Regions from separate parts of the Homo sapiens genome. Here all the other regions are reported to be linked to region 2. Evidence: microRNA targets listed by miRTarBase, many of them from high-throughput screens and not tested one by one. Region 2 holds a microRNA gene; each other region holds the end of a gene's coding sequence.

Region 1 (4,164 bases), not on the chromosome of region 2:
CCCGAACCTGGGTGGTGGAGGTTGCGGTGAGCCCACATCGCGCTACTGCACTCCAGCCTGGGCAACAGAGCGAGACTCCATCTCAGAAAATAAACTAATAACTAAATCAACAAATAGATCTGTATGAACCGATACAGAAAGATCTCCAAATCCCATCAAGGAAAAAAAAAAAGTTTCTGAAACTGAGATGACCTTAAAAAAAATTATTTTTGTGTGTAAATTTTCTTAAGAAAAAAAAATCACAGGCCAGGTGTGGTTGCTCACGCTTATAATTCCATCACTTTGAGAGGCAGAGGCAGAAAGATTGCTCGAGCCCAGGAAGTCAAGAACAGCCTGGCCAACATGACGAAAACCCATCTGAACAAAAAATTTAAAAATTAGCTAGGTGTGGTGGTGAGCCTGTAGTCCCAGTTTACTCAGGAGGCTGACGTGCTAGTATCACTTGAGCCCAGGAAGTCTAGGCTGCAGTGAGCTAAGACTATGCTACTGCACTCCAGTCTTGGTGACAGAGCAAGACCCTGTCTCAAAAAATAAAATAAAAATCGCACACACACAGTTTTACTTGAAAGAGTAACAGTGAGTGTTCCTTAATACTGACTTATTTAAGCACGGAAACAATGCTGCTAAATTTGGTTTGCTCCGAAGTGTTGATTTCCATATGTATACAATGGCCCAACACAAAACAAGCATACAAAACGATACTCAATATCCTTGAAAAATCTCAGAGCTGTTTTTACAGTAGGAAATCCAAGGACAATAAAAATACCTTCTTGAAAAACTCTAACAGCTGATATTAAACTCACCAATCTGACAGACTGTAAATTGCTGAACACTCTGACGGGTCTTTAGATACCACTCCGATGGCAAATCAAAAAGACTGTGAACAAACAGGCATCTCATTCCACGAGCAATGACATCCCATCCCGGCACTATGGCCTCCGCGGCAGGACCACCACTCGCAACCGGGGAGGATTTTTTCCTTGTTACAACAACTAGGGAGCACTACCATCATTTAGTGGACAGAAAAAAGCAAGGTCCTCCAACACGTAGGAGCAAGCCACACAAAACGTCCTGCCCCCCAAATGCCAACAGGCTGCTGGCCAGAAACAGTGCTGGTCTGGCCAGGCTCTTATACAGAGGGGACACAGCTTTAGTTTTACCTGATCTGCTGGGGCCCAGACAGGTTAGAACGAAGGCCCGTGAACTCTATGTCCAGACCTGCCAGGAAGGCAAAAAATAGCAGTCCTCGGGTGCAGAACATCGCCAGCACTCCTCACACTGTAGATCTGCAGGCGGCCAAGGCACCCGCGCTCACCTCTGCGCTCAAGAAGCCAAGTGAGGTCAGGAAGGGAAAATGGAGGAACCAAGGCAAGGAGCAGCCAGGCACCTGGGCGCACGGGGCTCTGGCCAACAAGGGACGTGGGGCTCGGAGTGTACTTGCTGCTCAAAGTCCCACCGCCCCGGGGCTGGAGAAGGAAGCCCCCCTGTCCTTCCCGAGGCCCTCTCTGAGGCCCTGTGGCCTGGCAACCGTCCCGCCACCCCCTCCTCAAGCTCGCCCGGGGCAAGGGGCTCTGTCCGGCACAGCCGCGAATCCCAGGCTCTTCACCCACGAAGTCGGCCTCCTGGACGAGCTCCTGCAGCAGAGGGAGGCTCTCCTCGAACTCGTCGGCGCCCACGTCCATGGCCGTGCAGCTCCGCGGAGTCGCCCAGCGCTATCACGTGCTGCCCACGTGCTGCCCACGCGCTTCCGTCGCGCCGCCGGGTCTTAAAGGGCGCACACATGGAAACCAGGCAGCTGCCTCCGCCCCACGTGCCCAGCTTCCCCGTGTGCTGCTGGCGTCGCCCACACCTGCCTGCGGGTGTTTTAATTGTACGATTTGCTACAGAGGTTTGATTGCAATTGCAATCAAAGCCTGTTTACCTGGCTCCTCAGCAATTTCTTTGCAGCCCTTAACGTGAGAATGTCATTTACATGGACTTAGAATGTTAAGAGGCGTGGCAGGAGACGAAGACAGAGTCCAGAAAGGGTGAAATCAGAAAAGCGGAGCAGGAACAACACCGGACGCAACTGCAATAAGCAGATCCTTTGCTGCGGCTCACGGTCTTCTAAATCACCTCTTCCCAACTTCTCCATCACTGCCAGTATGTCTGTCCCCATTCCCTCTCCCACGCCCCTGGACATCTTTTTCCTCATTCTGCTGTCCACCTTACCACTGTCTTCACACCTGCAATCAAACTTTGCAAAGCCTCAAGAACTGCCCATTAAATTGAAGGAATCCTTGGTCCCCAGGGATTATCTCGTGCACTCACTCCTTGCGGAAATCCCTACCTACATCATCACATACATGTGAGCTTAATTTTTACTTTTGTTACTGTTTCCAGTGCAACTAGTCCATGGTCTTCCTTACAGTGTCCTCCCTTGAATTCTAGGCTTCTACTTGAACAGCGTTTTGGAACTATGGTCCTCAAAGTGAGGTGCTCAAATCAATCTTTAAGGTTAGCGGAGAAAACATTACCGTTATACTTTATTTTTTCCTTTTGAGACAGTCTCACTCTGTCACCCAGGCTGGAGTGCAGTGGTGCCATCTCGGCTCTCTGCAATCTCCACCTCCTGAGTTCAAGCGATTCTCCCGCCTCAGCCTCTGAACAGCTGGGATTACAGGCATGCACCACCACGCCCAACTCATTTTTGTTTTTAGTAGAGATAGGGTTAAACCGTATTGGCCAGGCTGGTCTCGAATTCCTGGCCTCAAGTGATCCACCTGCTTCAGCCTCCTAAAGTGGTGGGATTAGAGGTGTGAGGCACTGCATCCGATCTTCAATTATACTTTTAAATGCCTCTCCGGGACATTAATTAAGCAAAAGGGGACTATTAAGCCATTTGATTCTGAAGACCTCTCAGAACAAATCATACTTCATACAGATGTGTTCCATTTAAAATAACACATTGAATACTCAAATTGGCAGAAGTAACATATTTCACTTCTAAACAAACATTTAATTGGGGTATACATTAAAAAAACTGGAAAACAATGCTCTAGAAGCCACCTTAACTGCCTACAGGTTTTTTCTCACATTTATCAAATAGCCAAAAATTAACACCTTAATCAGCTCCTTTCAGAGAACTGCCATGATTCCCATCTACCCAAGCTCAAATTTTAGATTAACTTGCATGCATTTCAAGTTTCATCTCCTATCTAATAAAATGTTCACTTCATGGCAAATTGAGCGCCCACTAACCCCAACCATTTCCACCTCTGCTTTCAGCTCCTGATGCCACCTCCTTCCTCTTTCAAATTTGTTTCTCTTACTGTTGGGAACCAAGAGTCCAAGTGAGGTTGGCATTTGGTCCTTTCATTTTCACATACTGACTGTTCTATAGTATTAGATTGATACTGACATTTCCTATTTTAAAAAACAACCCACACTCCGAGCAGCAAACAACTGTCATTCACTGAGATCACTCGCCATGAACTAGACACAGTAATAAGTGCTTTACATCAACCTCATATGTGCTCCACTGCCACAGTGAGCTCAGACAATGTCATATAACCAGAAAATAAGAGTTCATAATATGCCTTTATTTTGTAATTTATAAACAACTTCTGACTTGCCCTTTGAAAGTTAATTATAATTGATGACTGCTTTTCTTAGATGCTTCTGAAGCCCAAGAGAGGGGCAGAACGTAGTTCTTGATTTAAAAAAACAGAAAGGGGAGGAGGATGACCTTAACTACAAATAATATTCCACTGCAACATTATTGCTGTAAAACTTCCAAGCTGGCTGTTCTTCCAGATGCTCTCTTTTGATGGCTGTAGTGGCTGACAGATTTATATTTACATGTTCAAAACAATTAATGCTTCCATTTATTCATAGATTCTCTGAGGTTCCCGTAGAACCACACCACCTTCTGTCATGGCACTTTGTAGTCGTTTCATCTGGTTTTGAAAATCAGAAAAAAAAGGAAAAGATTAAGTCAGCAGCACGAGTAGGCTGAAAATACTTTCACCTTCCAAAAGACAGAAATAAATTGATTTGTTCTTGCTAACTTCCCAGCCTACAACGGTTTTTCAGAAAGTGATCTTAATAATGATGTAAGTAAAAAGGAAATGTAGAGATGTCAAGGTTCAGCAGCATTTCAAAATATTATATGGACAAGATGTC
Region 2 (4,000 bases):
AAATGTGGCTTGTTTGGGTTTTTTTTTTTTTTTTTTGAGACAGAGTCTGTCTCTGTTGCCCAGGCTGGAGTGCAGTGGCACGATCTTGGCTTGCTGCAACCTCCACCTTCCAGGCTCAAGCGATTCTCCTGCCTCAGCCTCTGGTGTAGCTGGGATTACAGGCGCCCACCACCACGCCTGGCTACATTTTTGTATTTTTAGTAGAGACGGGGTTTCACCATGCTGGCCAGGCCCGGGAGGCTGAAATCAAGAGGATTGCTTGAGCCCAGGAAGTTGAGGCTACAGTGAGCTATGATCACACCACTGCACTCCAGCCTGGGTGGCAGACTGAGACGCCATCTCGAAAGAAAAAGGAAGAAACACAAGAACACAAGCCATGCGCAATGGCTCGCACGTGTAATCCCAGCACTTTGGGAGACCAAGGCAGGAGGATTGCTTGAGGCTAGGAGGTCAAGACCAGCCTGGGCAACATAGTGAGACCTCATCTCTACTAAAAATAAAATAAATTAGCTGGGCACAGTGGTGTTCACCTGTAGTTCCAGCTACTTGGGAGGCTGAAGTGGGAGAATCAACTGAGCCCAAGAGTTTGAGGCTGCAGTGAACTCTGATTGCGCCACTGCACTCCAGACTCAGTGACAGAGCGACACCCTGTCTCAAAACAAACAAATATGAGACCAGAACACACGCACACAACACACACATTTGTATCTGAGTGGAGACAGTCTGAGAGTCTCTTTCCCTCTGGCCTGGCAGTTATGTGGCCAAACACACTGGGCCACATGTACCCCACCCATTGTTCTGTGGCAACAGCGAGCATTGTCTTGTTTAAAAGAGATCCAGGGTTGGGTTGGGCACAGTGGCTCATGCCTGTAATCCCCGCTGTTTGGGAGGCTGAGGCAGGCAGATTACTTGAGGCTAAGGGTTCGAGACCAGCCTAGCCAACATGGTGAAACCCAGTCTCTACTAAAAATACAAAAAATTAGTCAGGCATGGTGGTACATGCTTGTAATCCTAATTAGTTGGGAGGTTGAGGCAGGAGAATCACTTGAACCTGGGAGGCGGAGGCTGCAGTGAGCCGAGATCACGCCACTGCAATCTAGCCTGGGCGACAGAGCGAGACTCCGTCTCAAAAAATAAAAAATAAAAAGGGGGCCGGGCGTGGTGGCTCACGCTTGTAATCCAAGCACTTAGGGAGGCCGAGGCGGGTGGATCACAGGGTCAGGAGATTTAGACCATCCTGGCTAACGCGGTGAAACCCCGTCTCTAATAAAAATGCAAAAAATTAACCGGGCGTGGTGGCGGGTGCCTGTAGTCCCAGCTACTCGGGAGGCTGAGGCAGGAGAATGGCGTGAACCTGTGAGGCGGAGCTTGCAGTGAGCCGTGATCGCACCACTGCACTACAGTCTGGGCGACAGAGCGAGATTCCATCTCAAATAAATAAATAAATAAAAATAAAAAGGGACGCTGGCCATAGCGGGCCCACCTTCACCCGCAGGCATCTGATGATGCTCTCTTCCCTGCTTTTCCCTTCCAGACACCAAGTGTGCCTTCTCCAGTGTTCTCTGCTGGAAACCCAACATTCACCTCCTGATTGTAGCTGCAAGGACAGTGTGCGTCCCGGGTTGTCAGCACCACACTGAAACTGTGAAATGCCACCTCTCACGTGCTTAGGTAGCAGATGTCACCTGACAGGTACAGAGTACACCGGGCAGGTGGCAGGGGCGATGCTTCCTGCCAGGGGACACAGGTCACAGTGTCTTGACCCAGGAGCTGCTGAGTCAGCCATGGGCTTGGAAGATACCATCCTGTTGTCTAGCCACTAACCAGTTTTTTGTTTAGTTTTTTTTTTTTTTTTTGAGACGGAGTCTCACTCTGTCACCCAGGCTGGAGTGCAGTGGGGCTGTCTTGGCTCACTGCAACCTCCATCTCCCAGGTTCAAGTGATTCTCCTGCCTCAGCCTCCCGAGCAGCTGGGATTACAGGTGCCCACCACCACACCCGGCTAATTTTTGTATTTTTAGTAGAGACGAGGTTTCACCATGTTGGTCAGGCTGGTCTTGATGATCCACCCACCTTGGCCTCCCAAAGTGCTGGGATTACAGGTGCTTTGAGCCACCATGCCCAGCCCACTAACCAGTTCCTGAAGCTCCTTCCTGCTCCCTCCATTCCCTCTGCAGCCCTCAGCGTCGTGGATACGCACCCATGAACAGGATCCACCACGATGGCCCTTGGCTTGGAGCCGTTCTCCCTGAATAACGTTTTCCTCTTCACGCCCTTGGTATCCGCAACAGAGACAGTGCCCAGGACAGAGTCGGTCCAGTAGATGTTGCTGTGGATCCAGTCCACAGCCAGCCCGTCGGGGGCCTGGATGTCTCTGCTGATGACGGTGTCATAGGAAGAGACGCCGTGGGCTCTGTCAAGCTGGGTGCTGAGGCAGGAGGAGAGAAGGGCATCAGCGCCAGGAGCCCTCATCTCACCTGCGGGCCAAGGCTGCAGGCAGGGGCGACGCTCACCTGCAGATCATTCTCTGGGACAGGTCAGACCAGTAGATTCTATTGCTGGCCACCTCCGTGTCCAGAGCGACCACGTTCCTCAGGTTGGGGATGAGGCTGGTGTACTCGCTCCGGTCCAGCGTCATCTTCCTGACCTCGTGCCGGTTGGTGAAGAAGAGGTAGGCGATGGAGCCTGGGGGTCCGGGGAGCGAGGTCAGGGGGTCAGAGGGGACCCGTCGATGGAACCAAGAGTGCCTCCCCATCCCCTTGTGTCATCCTGCAGGGTGCGGCTGAGCCAGAGGAGGCACCCAGAAAAAGAGGGTGGAAAAGACCTCCCAACGGGAACAGGCACAGTGGCGCCCACCTGTAATCCCAGCACTTTGGGAGGCTGAGGGAGGAGGATCACTTGAGGCTAGGAGCATAAGGCTAGCCTGGGCAAGACAATGAGACCTTATTGCCACAAAAAAAAAAAAAAAAAAAAAAGCCAGGCACGGTGGCTCAAGCCTGTAATCCCAGCACTTTGGGAGGCTGAGGCGGGAGAATCGAGACCAGCCTCACCAACATGGTGAAACCCTGTCTCTACTAAACATACAAAAACTAGCCAGGTTTGGTAGCCGGAACCTGTAATCCCAGCTACTCAGAAGGGTGAGGCAGGAGAATTGCTGGAACCTGGGAGGTGGAGGTTTCAGTAAGCCAAGATCGCACCACCGCACTCCAGCCTGGGTGACAGAATGAGACTCTGTCTCAAAAAAAAAAAAAAAAAAATTAACCAGGCATGGTGGCACATGCCAGTACTCCCAGCTCCTCCAGAGGCTTAGGCGGGACGATCACGTGAACCCAGGAGGTCAAGGCTGCAGCGAGCTATGATGGAGGCTGCACTGCACTACAGGCTGGAAGATAGAGCAGCACCCTGTCTCTAAAAAATAATAATAGCCAGGTGTGGTGTCTGTAATCCCAGCACTTTGGGAGGCCAAGGCAGGAGGATCACTTGGGTTCAGGAGTTCAAGACTAGCCTGGCCAACATGGTGAAACCCTGTTTTTACTAAAAATATGAAAATTAGCGGCTGGGCGCAGTGGCTCACGCCTGTAATCCGAGCACTTTGGAAGGCCGAGGTGGGCGGATCACGAAGTCAGGAGATCGAGACCATCCTGGCTAACACAGTGAAACCCCGTCTCTACTAAAAATACAAAAAAATTGGCCTGGTGCAGTGGCGGGCTCCTGTAGTCCCAGCTACTGGGGAGGCTGAGGCAGGAGAATGGCGTGAACCCGGGAGGCGGAGCTTGCAGTGAGCCGAGATCCTGCCACTGCACTCCAGCCTGGGCAACAGAGCGAGACTCCGTCTCGAAAAAAAAAAAAAAAGAAAAAAGAAAATTAGCCAGGCATAGTGGCATGCACCTGAGGTCCCAGCTACTCCGGAGGCTGAGGTGGGAGGATCAACCAATCCTCCTGCCCTCAAGCAATCCTCCCGCCTCAGCCTTCTGAGTAGCTGGGACCACAGGTGTGTGGCA
Region 3 (4,164 bases), not on the chromosome of region 2:
AGGGGAGAGTATTGATTCGGGAGATAAATTTGTGGCGTTTAAAATCTGTTTCTCTCTAATCTAAAATGCCAAATAGTTTGATATGTAGATTTGTATCACTTCACTTAAGTTCTGTAGTTTATCTGACCATTTTCAATTTGAAAAACTAAGTGACTTATAAAAATCACTTCTGTGTTTCTTCCCATTTAGATGTTTCTTAGTGGATTATCGTAAATCACTGAACCTTTTTTTCAAGAAGGACAAGAATTTTGGAGTCTGCTATTAATGGACCATATTTATTACAGTTTTTAAATTGTACAATCTCTGTATTATAGCTATTTGTCTAACATTACCCCACATGTAATAAATAAAACAATATGAGCATAATTGCCCCATAAAGAACTCATGTCCTGAATTAATAAGTCTTTTCATTGCCAGTCACTTGTGCAATTTATAGAGACTATCAACTTTTTTGCACCATATATGAAGGAAACAAAGTGCAAAAAGTTTGCTCTCTCCCTTAAGAAAATTGAGTGCTTATAGCCTATGTCTTCCATATAAAAAAGTAAGAATATCAGTCTTTTTAATGTTATTCTAAGAAAATATTGGTATAATTTTAGTGGCAGAGTTTATCAGTCAGAAAAATAAAAGCCACTCTAGATATGCCAAGCAGAGAAGAATTTCATGCCAGGGATTGGCTATAAAGTTCTTCAAAAGACTGAAAGAACAGAAGGGAGGTAGAAGCGGGAGCCAGACAAAAGGGAAGAAGGGCTTTGCAGCCACAGATCAGGAGCTGCTCCGGCCCTTGGCTTGGAGCCCCGAGCCCACATTTGCCACTGAGCTGTCGGAGCTGCTGTGGCCACTGCAGTGCTCAGAAGCCCAGGAGTCTCTTTGCCAGTGCTGCTGACAACTTAACACTGCTGCTGTCCAGGCTGCCAAGCCCACCACCAAAAGAAGAAACATCTCTGCACTTTCTCCAAGCTTCTAATTTTTACCCCAGTGCCAAGAAATAGCAGAACCAAACTGGAAGCCACCTGGCTAGAAGTCTGGGAGGAGTGGTCCGCAACTGTAAACCCCCAGCACTGCAGCCGGTGGCCTAGAAAGGCGTGTGGAGCAAAAAGCCAGCACACAGAAGTGTTAATTACACCTGTTATTCTGACTTTGTAGTCCTTTGCCATACTTGCGAATAACTTAAGTGAATTTGATGTTACTGGAATTAGTTTGCCTTTATTTTGCCAGTTGAAAAAAAAGATTTCTAAAAAACTCAATGAAACATGATTCAACACAGGTTTCGAAGTAAAATAAGTCTGGATTTGAGTTCTAGTTCTATCACTTACTAGCTGTGTGGGCCTGAACAAGTTATTTAATTTCCCACAGAGAGAAACAGGGTGGTGTTGCTGTCACCCAGGCTGGAGTGTAGTGTTATGACCATAGCTCACTGCAACCCTGAACCCCTGTGCTTAAGGGATCCTCCTGCTTCAGCCTCCCGAGTATCTGGGACTACAGGCACACACCACCATGCTTTCCTGATTTTTAAATTTTTTTGTAGAGATAAGGTCTTGCTTTCTTGCCCAGGCTGGTCTTGAACTCTAGGCCTCAAGTAATCCTCCCACCTTGGCCTCCCTAAGTACTGGTATGACAGGCATGAGCCACCTTGCTTGGCCCAATTTCTCACCATCTTAATTCCCTCAAACTGAGGACAGTAAAAGTATCTACCTTCTAGTGGCAGGAGGTTTGAATCAGTTCGTATAAAGCATCTAGGCCAGGCACGGTGGCTCACGCCTATAATCCCAGCACTTTGGGAGACCATGGTGGGCAGATCATGAGGTCTGGAGATCGAGACCATCCTGGCTAACATGGTGAAACCCCATCTCTCCTAAAAATACAAAAAATTAGCCAGGCGTGGTGATGCATGCCTGTAATCCCAGCTTCTCAGGGGGCTGAGGTGGGAGAATCACTTGAACCCAGCAGGCAGAGGTTGCAGTGAGCAGAGATCATGCCACTGCACTCCAGCCTGGATGATAGGGCAAGGGCAAGACTCTGTCTAAAAAGAAAAAAAAAAAAAAAATGCGTCTAGCACAGTACCCGAGTGCCAAAAATGCTAGTTATTACGAGTATATAGGCTTCTATTTAGCTAATTGCAAGTTTTTAAATTGCAGTTTCAATAATAAAATTATTTTACACTTTGAAGGTGTTATACTGTTTCTCCACAATAATTAGTTTAAAAATGCAAGTTACTTAATTTGCAATGATATTTTAATGACGTTTGACCTATATTTAAAACATTGTCCAATAACTATTTACATAGGTCTTAGACAGACTTCTAAAGATCATATCATAACAAATAAGAATAGTTGGGCTGGCCGGGCATGGTGGCTCACTCCTGTAATCCCAGCACTTTGGGAGGCTGAGGCAGGTGGATCACCTGAGGTCAGGAGTTCGAGACCAGCCTGGCCAACATGGTGAAACCCCGTCTCTACTAAAAGTACAAAAAATAGCCAGGTGTGGTGGCAGGCACCTGTAATCCCAGCTACTTGGGAGGCTGAGGCAGGAGAATTGCTTGAACCCAGGAGGTGGATGCTTCAGTGAGCCAAGATCAAGCCACTATACTCCAGCCTGGGCAACAGAGTGAGACTCCATCTCAAAAAAAAAAAAAAAATAGCTGGGCTGGGCATGGTGGCTCATACCTGTAATCCCAGCACTTAGGGAGGACTAAGTTAGCGGATTGCTTAAGCCCAGGAGTTCGAGACCAGACTGGGCAACATAGTGAAACCTTGTCTCTACTAAAAACTAAAAAACAACAACAAAAAAATTGACCTGGCATGGTGGTGTGCGCCTGAAGTCACAGCTACTTGGGAGGCTGAAGTGGGAGGATGGCTTGAGGCCAGGAGGCAGAGATTGCAGTGAGCCAAGATTGTGCCACTGCACTCCAGCCTGGGTGACAGTGAACCCCTGTCTCAAAATAAAAATAATAATACAAATAAATACACCATAGAAAAAAATACAAAGGGCTTTTTTCCTCCCCACTAGAGATGGAGTCTTGCTCTATCACCCAGGCTGGAGTGCAGTGAAGCAATCATAGCTCACTGCAGCCTCAAACTCCTGAGCTCAAGCAATCCTGTTGCCTCAGCCTCTTGAGTAGCTGGGACCATACAGGTGCATGTCACCACACTCAGCCAATTTTTTTTTTTTTTTTTGTAGAGCTAGGACCTTGGTATGCTGCCCAGGCTGGTCTCAAACTCCTGGCCTCAGGCAATCTTCCTGAGTTGCTGGGATTAGAGATGTGAACCACTGTGCATGGCCCAAAGGGCTTTGGAACATGTGAAAAGAAAACCTCCCTAATGCTAATAAAAATGCAAATTAAAACTACCTTAGATTCCATTTTTTACTTGCCAGAATGGCAAAAATTAAAGTTTGATAACTGGACAAAATTATCAGAAAATTTATTCTCATATCTTGGTGGAAATTTAAATTTGTATAAGTTCTTTGGAGGACAATTTGACAATCTCTTCAAAATTACAAATATGCATACCTTTTGACCCAACTATTCCACTTCTAGGAACACACACTTGTAAGTTACTCACTATGCCATTATTCTCGGAGGAAACGTTTGGAAACAACCAAAGTACTCATCAGGAGGGGAATGTAGGCCTGGCATGATGGCTCACACCTGTTACCATAGGACTTTGGGAGGCCAAGGTGGAAGGATCACTTGAGGCCAGGAGTTTGAAACCAGTCTGGACAACATAGTAAGACCTCATCTCTACAAAGAAAAAAATTTTTTTAAAGAAGGGAATGGGCTAACTGCATGTGGCCATATACAGAATGAGGAAGTACTCAGTCCTTCTATACAAGTTTCTGGACAGACTGGCATCCTTTATTAGCCCCCCTAAAATGTGTTGGAAGACAAAATTTAGATAATGGAAGTACCTGCCTTGATTGATTGACTTAATGTAGACGGAGTCTCACTATGTTGCCCAAGCTGGCCTTGAACTCCTGAGCTCAAGCAGTCCTCCCACCTCAGCCTCCTGAGTAGCTGTCTATGATTTTATTTTTATTTATTTATTTACATATCATTTATTTATTTATTTTTGAGACAGAATCTCCTTCACCCAGGCTGAGTACAGTGGCAAAATTTTGGCTCACTGCAACCTCCGCCTTCTGGGTTCAAGTGCTTCTCGTGCC

What was found. The annotated mature microRNA hsa-miR-6886-3p reads UGCCCUUCUCUCCUCCUGCCU and lies in region 2 at 2,431-2,451, opposite strand. An mRNA with a match to its seed (bases 2 to 7 or 8) in the 3' UTR can be bound and repressed. Matches are read on the target gene's strand: a 7mer-m8 pairs with bases 2 to 8, a 7mer-A1 pairs with bases 2 to 7 and ends in A, and an 8mer does both.
Region 1: miRTarBase lists MRPL18 as a target of hsa-miR-6886-3p. Seed matches in the 3' UTR shown: 7mer-A1 at 3,612-3,618.
Region 3: the mRNA of KNTC1 is a reported target of hsa-miR-6886-3p. The part of its 3' UTR that is shown has no 7-base or 8-base seed match.

What each region holds. Positions count from the first base shown.
Region 1 is chr6:159,797,826-159,801,989 of GRCh38, reverse strand. MRPL18 (mitochondrial ribosomal protein L18) reads right to left here. Exons shown (of 4, transcript NM_014161.5): 4 at 3,561-3,938. The coding sequence ends at 3,867. PNLDC1 (PARN like ribonuclease domain containing exonuclease 1) reads right to left here and starts at 1,714. Exons shown (of 19, transcript NM_001271862.2): 1 at 1,607-1,714; 2 at 1,161-1,218; 3 at 804-877. The coding sequence starts at 1,682.
Region 2 is chr19:11,111,962-11,115,961 of GRCh38, reverse strand. MIR6886 (microRNA 6886) reads right to left here and starts at 2,488; the gene lies at 2,428-2,488. It overlaps LDLR (low density lipoprotein receptor), which reads right to left. Exons shown (of 18, transcript NM_000527.5): 9 at 2,513-2,684; 10 at 2,200-2,427.
Region 3 is chr12:122,626,016-122,630,179 of GRCh38, forward strand. It overlaps KNTC1 (kinetochore associated 1), which reads left to right. Exons shown (of 64, transcript NM_014708.6): 64 at 190-381. The coding sequence ends at 213. Among named protein-coding and RNA genes, the nearest start is that of MIR9902-1, 68 kb to the right of the region's middle.